Linked DNA regions of Homo sapiens: region 1 is linked to region 2. Evidence: fine-mapped QTL for protein levels in blood plasma. A gene starts in region 2. The other region holds a variant in brackets. All regions are shown on one strand. Distances are from middle to middle. Region 1 overlaps SCLY (selenocysteine lyase). Region 2 holds the start of SCLY (selenocysteine lyase).

Evidence for each region. PIP is the posterior inclusion probability: the model's chance that the variant is causal. The UK Biobank Pharma Proteomics Project read protein levels with antibody pairs (Olink). The fine-mapping took linkage between variants from a reference panel, not from the people measured, so its PIPs are less certain.
Region 1: its variant is fine-mapped to the plasma level of the SCLY protein (UK Biobank, PIP 0.98).

What each region holds. Positions count from the first base shown.
Region 1 is chr2:238,090,324-238,095,688 of GRCh38, forward strand. It overlaps SCLY (selenocysteine lyase), which reads left to right. Exons shown (of 12, transcript NM_016510.7): 8 at 895-931; 9 at 3,538-3,621; 10 at 4,097-4,199. UBE2F-SCLY (UBE2F-SCLY readthrough (NMD candidate)) reads left to right here. Exons shown (of 19, transcript NR_037904.1): 15 at 895-931; 16 at 3,538-3,621; 17 at 4,097-4,199. Among named protein-coding and RNA genes, the nearest start is that of ESPNL, 7.3 kb to the right of the region's middle. RefSeq lists enhancers at 1,996-2,165, 3,851-4,520, 4,521-5,188. The variant C/T (reference allele first, on the strand shown) is at 2,867.
Region 2 is chr2:238,056,197-238,061,499 of GRCh38, forward strand. It overlaps SCLY (selenocysteine lyase), which reads left to right and starts at 4,805. Exons shown (of 12, transcript NM_016510.7): 1 at 4,805-4,947. The coding sequence starts at 4,859. UBE2F-SCLY (UBE2F-SCLY readthrough (NMD candidate)) reads left to right here. Exons shown (of 19, transcript NR_037904.1): 8 at 962-1,054. RefSeq lists an enhancer at 1,086-1,255, a cis regulatory region at 1,171 and silencers at 4,215-4,424, 4,565-5,014.

The sequences.
Region 1 (5,365 bases), 34 kb after region 2:
AGAGGTTTAAGAAAACTTTGTTCAGGCAAACTTAAGAAATTAATGGGCCGGGCGCAGTGGCTTACACCTGTGATCCCAGCACTTTGGGAGGCCGAGGTGGCTGGATCACGAGGTCAGGAGTTCGAGACCAGCCTGACCAACATGGTGAAACCCTGTCTTTACAAAAATTAGCTGGGCATGGCGGCACATGCCTGTAATCCCAGATACTCAGGAAGCTGAGGCAGGAGAATCACTTGAACCCGGCAGGTGGAGGATGCAGTGAGTCGAGATCCACTGCACTCCAGCCTGGGCAACAGAACGAGACCCCATCTAAAAAAAAATTAAGAAATTAATTATTAAGTTAATTTTTTTTTCCTGAAAATAGGGTAATGAGTTCTGTTTTTCGGTTTGTTAGGTCAGAGTATGCAAGCCATTGTCTTTAGGGGTCTCTTGCCCATCTCCTGTGTGTGTGCACACCCACACGCGCTTGCACACATACACACACACACACACCCCTCTTGTTTGCTGATGCCTGAAATGTTGAGAACAAAGGGTTCTCCCCTGTTCCATACTATACTGATTTGGCAGTGAGGACTAAAGAGAGCTGTGCCTTGGGGCCTACAGGAGGCAGAGTGCTTGCTTTGGGTAGGAAAAGGGTCCAGATAGAACTGTCACAGTGAACACCCAACACATCACCCACAGTGGGCCTCGTTGACCTTCACTGGGCCAGGGCAAGTGAAAACTTGGCAGGGGAGGTTTCTGGGGCCTGCAGCTGCCATTGAGATAGCCACATGGCGCGTGCTTAGGAAAGATGTAGCGTGAGTTTGATTTTATTTTAACACAATGACTTTCATGGAGACAGGATTCCTTCCTGAGACATTTGTTTATTCTTGCTTAATCCCTTGTTTCTTACAGGACAGAGAACACCCCAATGATTGCTGGCCTTGGGAAGGTGAGCCCTGGTGAGCTTGAGGAGATGAGTTGATTGCTTTGTCATCAGTGTCCCCAGCGGCTCTAGTAGGAATCTGGGGCTTTAGGGAGATCATATTCGTGATCTCATAAGCGGACTGACAAGAAAAAGCCTGGAATCTGATTTATCAACCTGGAGAGCTGTACTTTTTCAGATCTGTGGATTAGTGGCACTTGTTTAGCATTTAAAAGGGAAAAACTCCTTGTCTGTGTCTCTTCTGACATGAGAAACAGTGATACTGTTACAGCAGAGGTGAAGTGTCAAGCTGCAGGTTCACCATTCCCAAAGGCGTCGGCAGCCCCCGCACCATCGACGTTCTGTCCCCGATTGGTCTGTGGGGTGGCCAATCCAGCACCTGCCACCAGCCCTCCACTGGGGCCTGTCCTGCTTCTGCGACAGTAACCAGGCTCAGGTTTTGCCGTGCGAAGGCAGAGGTACTGGTTACACCTCGGCGTCTGCAGGCTGCTCCCTCACTGTGCGGCCTCTGGTCAAAGGCCACCACCTTCAAGCAACCCTCCATGAACCACAGCTACATTGGTTCCCCCATGTCCCCTGCTGTCACCCTCTATCCCTGACACTGCTTTATTTCCCCTATCTGATGTTTCTCTGTAGTGTGTTCAGATGTATGCCCCACCTTCTGCTTCCCCGAGAGCAGGGGCTTGGCCATGTCGGCCTCAGTATCCCCAGTACAGAGAAAGGGCTTAGCGCCCAGGAGGCCGGGCCTTGGGAAGAGTATGAATGGATTCCCTGTTACTTAGAATATTCAAAATTATATTATTAACAGTGATAACTGTGGCTACATTTACTAGAAGGAAGAGTGTGTGTTTGTTTGAGATGGAGTCTCACTCTGTCACCCAGGCTGGAGTGCAGTGGCACGACCTTGGCTCACTGCAGCCTCCATCTCCCGGGTTCAAGAGATTCTCCCACTTCAGTCTCCAAGTAGTTGGAACCACAGGCATGCGCCACCATGCCTGGCTAATTTTTGTATTTTTAGTAGAGACAGGGTTTCACCATGTTGTCCAGCTGGTCTCGAACTCCTAACCTCAGGTGATCCACCCGCCTTGGCCTCCCAAAGTGCTGGGATTACAGGCATGAGCCACCACGCCCAGCCGGAAGAGTGTGTTTTAAGTGGAGTCCGGTACCTGCTCGTATTGACCTGAGTGATGAAGTAGTGGTGCCGTCCACAGGCTTTGAAATACCCAGGGTTCAAATCCTGGCTTGAAGCTTCACTCACCGTGTGCCTTGGGTCAGGTCGCTGGAACTCCCTGAGTCCTGGCTGCCAGATGGGAATCACGGTAACAGCTTCCTAGGTAGAGCTTCAGCTCACAGTGCTGGAAGCCCCCCAGCCCCTGACCTTCTCCGTGCTCCTGCAGCTGCATCTGCACCTGTAATGGCACAAGTGCCACAGCTGGGTCCCAGCCACAGCACCACACCCCCACTGGTTCTTCAGCTTCGCCCAGCCCAGACCCCAATGCCACCAGCGCTCTAGACAGCCCCCCTCCGCCACCCAGCCTAGACTCCATCCTGCACACGCCCTCCCCAGCGTGCTTTCCCTCACCCATTCCTTTCTGCCTTGGTTGCGTGCTGGCAGCCCTGCACCTGAGCCCTTGTGGGTCCGTCTGTCCTGTCACTGTGATGCTAGCTTGTGCTCCTGCCTTTAAACTTGACATCTCAGCTAGGCCCTGGCCCATGTCCTGAGAGATCCATTCCTCTGAGTTCAAAACCTGTCCCGACTGCTCTCCTCCAACCCTCTTCCCACCCTGGGCACCTCTTGCTATCCAGGTTCTCACCTCTGAAGTCCGGGGGATGCCCTCAGTCCCTCCTTGTCATCGTCCCCTGCCTCCAATGCAGCACCTTCCTGTCTGTCTGGATTCCAGAATACACCCACTACCGGCCTCATGTCCATTTTCATGGCCA[C/T]CAACCCTAGACCAAGGGTCTGGATGCCTGCCATGGCCTCCTGGGGGCCTGCTGCTGCCATTTTCCACACGGCCACAGAATGACCAACAGACAGGCCAGTCAGACCATCGCATCCCTCCCTCAGCCTCACTGCGTCTGCCCCGTGGCCGGGCCTGCAGGGCCTGTCGATCTGTCCCTGCGCCTTCACCCCCTCCACACTCTCCACCCGCCACGCCAGGCCCCTCTGTTCTAGAGACAGAATGTCTGTCTGTCCCCTGCAAAGCCCTTGCTGGGACGCCATTCCCTGCCCTTGTACAGCCATCTCTGTCACCACCCCACCTTGGGCCTGCGAGGTGCCTTCACAGCGCCAACTGGTGGGTAGGAGTCTGTTCCCCTCTTCCCCTGCTTTTGTCCGTCTGCCTCTCTGGGATGCTGGCTCCTCGAGGGAGCCCTTTCAGGGCTGCTTTGCTGAGGCATCTCCAGTGCCTGGTGCTGTCAGGAGGTACCTGGTGAAGTCAGTTTCTGGGGCACTTCCACACCCTCCAAATGGCAGCACTCAAAAAATATGGTCTGTCTGTGACTGTCAGGAGAATGAGCAGTTTCAGGAAATGCCACCTGTACCGTTGAAAGCTTTTTGGCCCTCCTTTATTTTGCAAGAATTGTGCATCCACTTGTTGTGTGTCTGCCCCCAGGCCGCGGAGCTGGTGACCCAGAACTGCGAGGCTTATGAGGCCCACATGAGGGACGTCCGCGACTACCTGGAAGAGAGGCTGGAAGTGAGCGCAGCGTGGGGTGGGCACCAGGAGGGGGAGGGTGCGTGGGGCAGGTGCCCAGAGAGGAGGGGTGTGGTGCTCCCAGACCCCAGGACCTGTGGGGATTGCAGCGTAGCCTGGAACTCAGCAGGATGCAGTGAGGGAAGAAAGAACAGTGGCAGAAAGTACATTGGGATCTGAAACCCCGAAAGCAGGACCCTAGGCCAGGGGCATGATCTTTTTCAGAGACACAGGATCAAATATGCAGAGGTGGTATACCTCATGGTTTATGTGGAAGGTTCATATGTTTCTGAATATTTGGTTTTTCTCCTAATTAACTTTGCTTTCCATAGTCCGTCCCCGTAACTATTCTGGGTAGATGCTGATTGAAAAGTATGCACCTGCTGAAGTTGTGTTTCTGGAAAAGTCTAAATTTCAAACAGTTGCTGGTGGTGGTGTCTTTGAAGCTGTCACCAAATATTTCACTTATTTTTTTCAGGCTGAATTCGGTCAGAAGAGAATCCATCTGAATAGCCAGTTTCCAGGCACCCAGCGGCTTCCCAATACCTGTAACTTTTCCATCCGGGGACCCCGGCTTCAAGGTGATGGCCCCTCACCCTGGTCTTTCCGAGTGTGAGCACAGCTCCCTCGGTGCGTGGATTCTGGTCCGAGCCAGTGACTCCCACTCGCCCTGCCCTGAGCATGACACAGCTCGGGCTGTCAGAGGGCCTTGCTGGGGTTGCCAAGAGCAGGCTCGGGTGGCTGTGCTGTGGTCCACAGGGCTCTCGCCGCTGGCCCCTCCTCTCCCTGACGTGGCTCATTTTGCTGCTGCTGGGATGTGGACTGTGGCAAACTCTCGTGTCTGGCATTAGCGCCACCCCAAAAGCCGTCAGGGAAGGAAGCAACATTAAATTCTAGACATTTGTCTATTTTGTTGGCAGTTTTAATTAAATATTTGAGTGAGGGAAAGGGGAGGTGATCAGTTTTAAAAACTGGCAGAGGCTGGGCACAGTGGCTCGTGCCTGTAATCCTAGCACTTTTGGAGGCTGAGGCAGGCTGATCACAAGGTCAAGAGATTGAGTCCAGCCTGGCCAACATGGAGAAACCCCATCTCTACCAAAAACTACAAAAAATTAGCCAGGCATAGTGGTGTGCACCTGTAGTCCCAGCTACTTGGGAGGCTGAGGCAGGAGAATTGCTTGAACCTGGAGGTTGCAGTGAGCCATAATTGAGCCACTGCACTCCAGCTTGGGTGACAGAGTGAGTGAGACTCTGTCTCAAACAAACAAAAAACAACAAAAATAACTGGCAGAGTAAGGATCAAGTGCAAATCTGGATTTCCTGCAACATCTGCCTCGGCTAGGAGCAGTTAGGATCACCCCCGTCCCAGATGCACCTAAAACCTGGTCTGCCCTGACTCCCTGAGAGTGGAAGTCCAGGTGATTGACCAGCCGCATGTCATTTGGGAGGAGGTTATAGTGGCCCTGAGATCACGATGAGCTGCATCTGTAAACAAGTTTTTGACTTCTTAGAAGATGAAAGTGTTGCTTCTTTCTTCTTCCTGGATCACGCAGAGAAACCCAGCAGTCGTGTTTGGCCCATGAAGAAGAACCCGTGGGTAACCGTCATGATGGCTGCGTTCATGAGAACCTGGGCTGAAATGCGTTCTTGTGGGCAGTGAAGCCTGGGTCTCCTTGACCATCTCAAATTCCTCACCATGGAAAGGAGAGTTCTCTGTCAACGTTCCCCTTGTTCTGGGGTCAGACTT
Region 2 (5,303 bases):
AACATATCAAATATGAAGGCAAAATAACAAGTTTTCATGTGTACAAAAGCTGAAGGAAGCATACCAGCAGACTAGCACTACAAAGTCCTTTGGCAGAAGAAATGATACCAAATGGAAACGTGGAACCACATCAGGGTTTCTCCCCTTTGGCACTGGCGACACTTGGGGCTAATAATTTATTGTGGGGGATGCTCAGTAGTATAAATAGCCTCACTCACTACAGCCCAGAAGCACCACAGCTCCTGTTATGGTAACCAAAATTGTCTCCAGATATGACCAAAGGACCCCTGGAAGGAAAAATCACCTCTGCTTGAGAATCACCATATTCAATGGACAATTTTATTTCATATTTTCCATCTCTATCCTTTTGAGCAATAATCAGAGAATTCCTAGGGCCAGTTCACGAATTCACTCCTCAGCTATGCCTATTCTGCTCTTCAACCCATCTATTGGGGGGTTCTAAAAAAAACAATAAACCTTATTTATTAGAGGAGTTTTAGGTTCACTTGAAAATTGAGCAGTTACCATATATCCCCTGCCTGTGCACATGTACGCAACCTCCTCCACTATCAACATCCACTGTGGTACTTTTGTTAACAACTGATTAAACTTCATTGACACATCATCACCCATAGTCCATAGTTTACATTAGGATTCATTCTTGGTGTTGTATCTTCTGTGAATTTTGACAAATATATTACATGTATCCACCATTATAGTATACAAAATAGTTCATTGCCCTAAAAATTCTGTTCTCTGCCTATGCATCTTTTCCTTCCCCAACACCTGACAACTCATGTTGAGTTTTTAAACTTCAATTATTAATGTCTAGTATCTCTTTTCACTGTTTGTTCTTGTTTCATGACAGCCTATTTTTTTTTTTAAATAAAATACCCATTTGTCTCAAGACCTTGCTCTATTGGAGACCTACTCTGATAGCTCTATAAACTTTTTCCCTTAGGTGAGAATTCTATTTGGTGCACGTGCTATTGTGTCCGGAATTGGTGGGTTCTTGGTCTCACTGACTTCAAGAATGAAGCCGCGGACCCTCGCGGTGAGTGTTACAGTTCTTAAAGGCGGCGTGTCCAGAGTTTGTTCCTTCTGATGTATGGATGTGTTTGGAGTTTCTTCCTTCTGGTGGGGTTTGTGGTCTGGCTGGCTCAGGAGTGAAGCTGCGGACCTTCGCGGTGAGTGCTACAGCTCTTAAGGCGGTGCGTCTGGAGTTGTTCGTTCCTCCCGGTGGGTTCGTGGTCTCGCTGGCTTCAGGAGTGAAGCTGCAGACCTTCGTGGTGAGTGTTACAGCTCATAAAGGCAGTGTGGACCCAAAGAGCGAGCAGCAGCAAGATTTATTGCAAAGAGTGAAAGAACAAAGCTTTGACAGCGTGGAAGGGACCCGAGCGGGTTGCCACTGCTGGCTCGGGCAGCCTGCTTTTATTCTCTTATCTGGCCCTACCCACATCCTGCTGATTGGTCCTTTTTACAGAGAGCCGAGTGGTCTGTTTTGACAGGGCGCTGATTGGTGCGTTTACAATCCCTGAGCTAGACACAAAGGTTCTCCAAGTCCCCACCAGACTCAGGAGTCCAGCTGGCTTCACCCAGTGGATCCCCCACTGCGGCTGCAGGTGGAGCTGCCTGCCAGTCCCGCTTGCCCTGCGCCTGCACTCCGCAGCCCTTGGGCGGTGGATGGTACTGGGTGCCCTGGAGTAGGGAGCAGCGCTCGTCTGGGAGGCTCAGGCTGCGCAGGAGCCCATGGAAGTGAGGAGGTTCAGGCATGGCAGGCTGCAGGTCCCGAGCCCTGCCCCACGGGGAGGCAGCTAAGGCCCGGCGAGAAATCCAGCGCAGCGCAGGTGGGCTGGCACTGCTGGGGGACCCAGTACACCCTCCGCAGCCGCTGGCCCGGGTGCTAAGCCCCTCATTGCCCGGGGCCGGCGGGGCCGGCTGGCAGGCCGCTCCGAGTGCGGGGCCCGCCAAGCCCACGCCCACCCGGAACTCCAGCTGGCCCAGAAGCGCCCCGCGCAGCCCTGGTTCCCGCTCGCGCCTCTCCCTCCACACCTCGCTGCAAGCTGAGGGAGCCGGCTCCAGCCTTGGCCAGCCCAGAAAGGGGCTCCCACAGTGCAGCGGTGGGCTGAAGGGCTCCTCAAGTGCCACCAAAGTGGGAGCCCAGGCAGAGGAGGCGCCGAGAGCGAGCGAGGGCTGCCAGGGCTGCCAGCACGCTGTCACCTCTCACTATCTTCATGGAGATGCCATTCCTCAAATGTCTGGCCACTATGGGGCACTTGTGTTTGTATTAGAGACATCTTGGTAGGTCATCTGTTGCATGTGTGACCAGTATACTTGGAATGGTGGTAGCTGCTGCTGCGTGTTGTACCCTAAACTGTTTTCAGCTGGGCTACCTCAGCACCTGGGCTTCTGTATGTTTGTACTCAATTCTTTCGGGGTATCACCAGCCATGTTGGACACTATCTTGTCTGACTCCACCACTACACTCACTATGTTCACCTGGAAACACAAACCTTATTGCTGCCTAACTGGCCCAAGGAGTGCTTGGGATGAATCGTCACTTTGTCCATTGTCCTTGGGCTCCTATCCTTACAGCCTTCCAAACAGATTTAGAGAATGAATTCTCCCCATGCCTATCAACTTCCCTAGCCACCTTTACTCTTAACTTCATCCCCTATCGTCTCCTCCAGGACTTTGGCTCCTCTTCCTTGCACGTCCTGTTGGCTAACTCCCTTTAGCCTATGAACATGTTCAGTCTCTATTTGCTCTTAATCTTTTTTTTTTTTTTTTTTTTTGAGACGGAGTCTCACTCTGACTCCCAGGCTGGAGTGCAGTGGCATGGTTTCAGCTTCACTGTGTAACCTCCACCTCCCAGGTTCAAGTGATTCTCTTGCCTCAGCCTCCCCAGTAGCTGGGATTACAAGCATGCACCACCACAGTCGGCTACTTTTTGTATTTTTAGTAGAGACGGAGTTTTGCCATGTTGGCCAGGCTGGTCTCGAACCCTTGACCTTAGGTGATCCACCCACCTCAGCCTTTCAAAGTGCTAGGATTACAGGGGTGAAGCACCGCGCCCAGCTTGCCTGTAATCTTATACGCCTTTTTAATTCCTCCTTTCTCAACCGTTTTAAGAGTTGACTGCATTCTTCATTTTTTCATATCCCATCTTTGCATTCTAACTTCCATGCCTCTCCCATCACTGAGACTTCTCTCGCTAGTTTATCAGTGCCTCCTAATTGTTACGCACAGTAGACTTCGGATTGCCTCTCAGCCACACTTTACACTATTATGTGTCTTCTTGACTTTTTTGACATTCCTTCTCAATTCCCTTTCCTTTCCTCCTCTTTTGACTGTTCTCATGCTCCTGTGCATCCATTTGCTTCTTAAATGTTGGTGGGCCCTTTGCTATTGGCTGCATTTGGCAAGAAATGAGCTGCGTTTATAGGGAAGAATGAGAGAGAATGAGTCCAGAAATTTGCAGATTTGCTGTGCTGGAAAAGCCAAGTTATTCTGGACCCCAACAGGACACAAAATAGAGAAAGCCCATGAAAAGCCAATTAAAATTCAACCTCTTGGCAAAGCATGCTTGAAACCGAATTTTGGCTCCAGCCACTACTCGTGTGAACTTGGGCAAGATGCCTTTCTGTATCTTGGATTCCTCATACATAAATACCTACCAGACTGGGTTAATCATCAAGATTAAATTAGTGAACACACGAAAAATACCTAGAACACTGCCTGGCATAGTTCAAGGCTCAATTAAAGGTAGACACTATTATGCCAAAAAAACAAAAAACAACAAAAAAAGTGACGGTAGGATGGCTTCGTGAGGATTTTTGCTCATTTCTACCACTTTCTCAACTGACTTTTCTTAATGGTTGGCGGGACACCAACCATTGGTGGATGTTTACACTTGTGACTGTCTCACAGACAACTCAACATGTCCAAAGCTAAACCCATCATCTTTCCCCCTCCCGTCTTCCCTCTTACCCAGATAAAGGCACTAACATCTTCCCAGTCACTTGTCTAATCCTTGCTTCCTTCCTGTCCCTCATGCCCCAATTCCTATTTAACGGCCTAAACAGATCTTGAATTAATCTTTCCTGCGTTTCCACGCCCACTTAGAGTCCCTCATCTCTGGCCCTATTTTCTCAATGCCCTCCCATCCTCTACTCCAGATCCCCTCAAGTCCATCCTCGATGCGTGACTCTTAACTTCACGCCATCCAGGTCCCCTATGGAGCCGCTCCGACTAACGGACGCGCAGGTCCAGCGGACCTGCTCATCACTGTCCAGGGTGGCCTGCGGGAGACCCCCGGGGCCCTGGCCCTGCTGCCGCGGCCCCGGCACTTCCCCTCGAGGGTTCGCGGGGAACAAGGCCGCGCGGCCCCGGCTCTCCCGGAGTGCACGGTCCCGCGCTCATGCGGCTAGAGGGAGGCACCCGCAGGACTGCCCAGCCGCCTCTGCTCCTCAGGTCCAGCTCGGGCCCCGCCTGCTCTTACGCCGACTAACCGGCCGCGGCCCGATGGCGGCCCTGCCGCAGACAGCAAAGGTCACGGGGCTCCCCCGGAAGTGAAAGTGCGGGGATCCGCCGGCCCAGGAGACGCGGCTTCTAGCGCCCGGTTCCCGGGAAGCTCTGTGACGCGCTAAGCCCCGCCCCCACCCGTCACCTGACCCAGCGCAGCCTCGCCTCCCCGCTGGGGGCTCGGCGGCCCTCTGAAGCGGGTGGATTGGCTGGGGTGCTTCGCTCAGCCAATCCGGACGCGCCCGGGCGTCGCGGCCCCGCCTCCTCCCCGGCGCTCTGGGCCCGTAGCGCTCCGCGGGAAGGAGGCTGGATGCCCGGCAGCAGTGGGGCGGGGATGGAGGCGGCCGTGGCGCCGGGGAGGGATGCGCCGGCACCCGCGGCGAGTCAGCCCAGCGGCTGCGGGAAACACAACTCGCCGGAGAGGTGCGCGCCTTTAGGGCAGGGCTGGGGAGCGGCCGGCGCCTGTCGCCGATTGTCCCGCGCGGGAGGACGAAGGGGGCTCCCGGCCTGTGGCCGCTCTCGCGTGGGGCGTCCCGCGCGGGGATGTCCGCGAGGTCGGCCTAAGTCAGGGATGCGAGCTTCAAGGAGGAGCGGGTGCGAGCTGTGGCCCCGCAAGGGCCCACGGAGAGGTGACTTTGGGGCCGAAACCCGAGTGACTTCCAGGGGTGAGGTTTGCAGGTTCTGGGGAAGCAGAGCCTGCCAGGAAGAGGGCACAGCAGATGCGAAGGGCAGGGGACTTGCCGGAGGTGAACCGGCAGAGCCCCTGAGCCCGGGAAGAA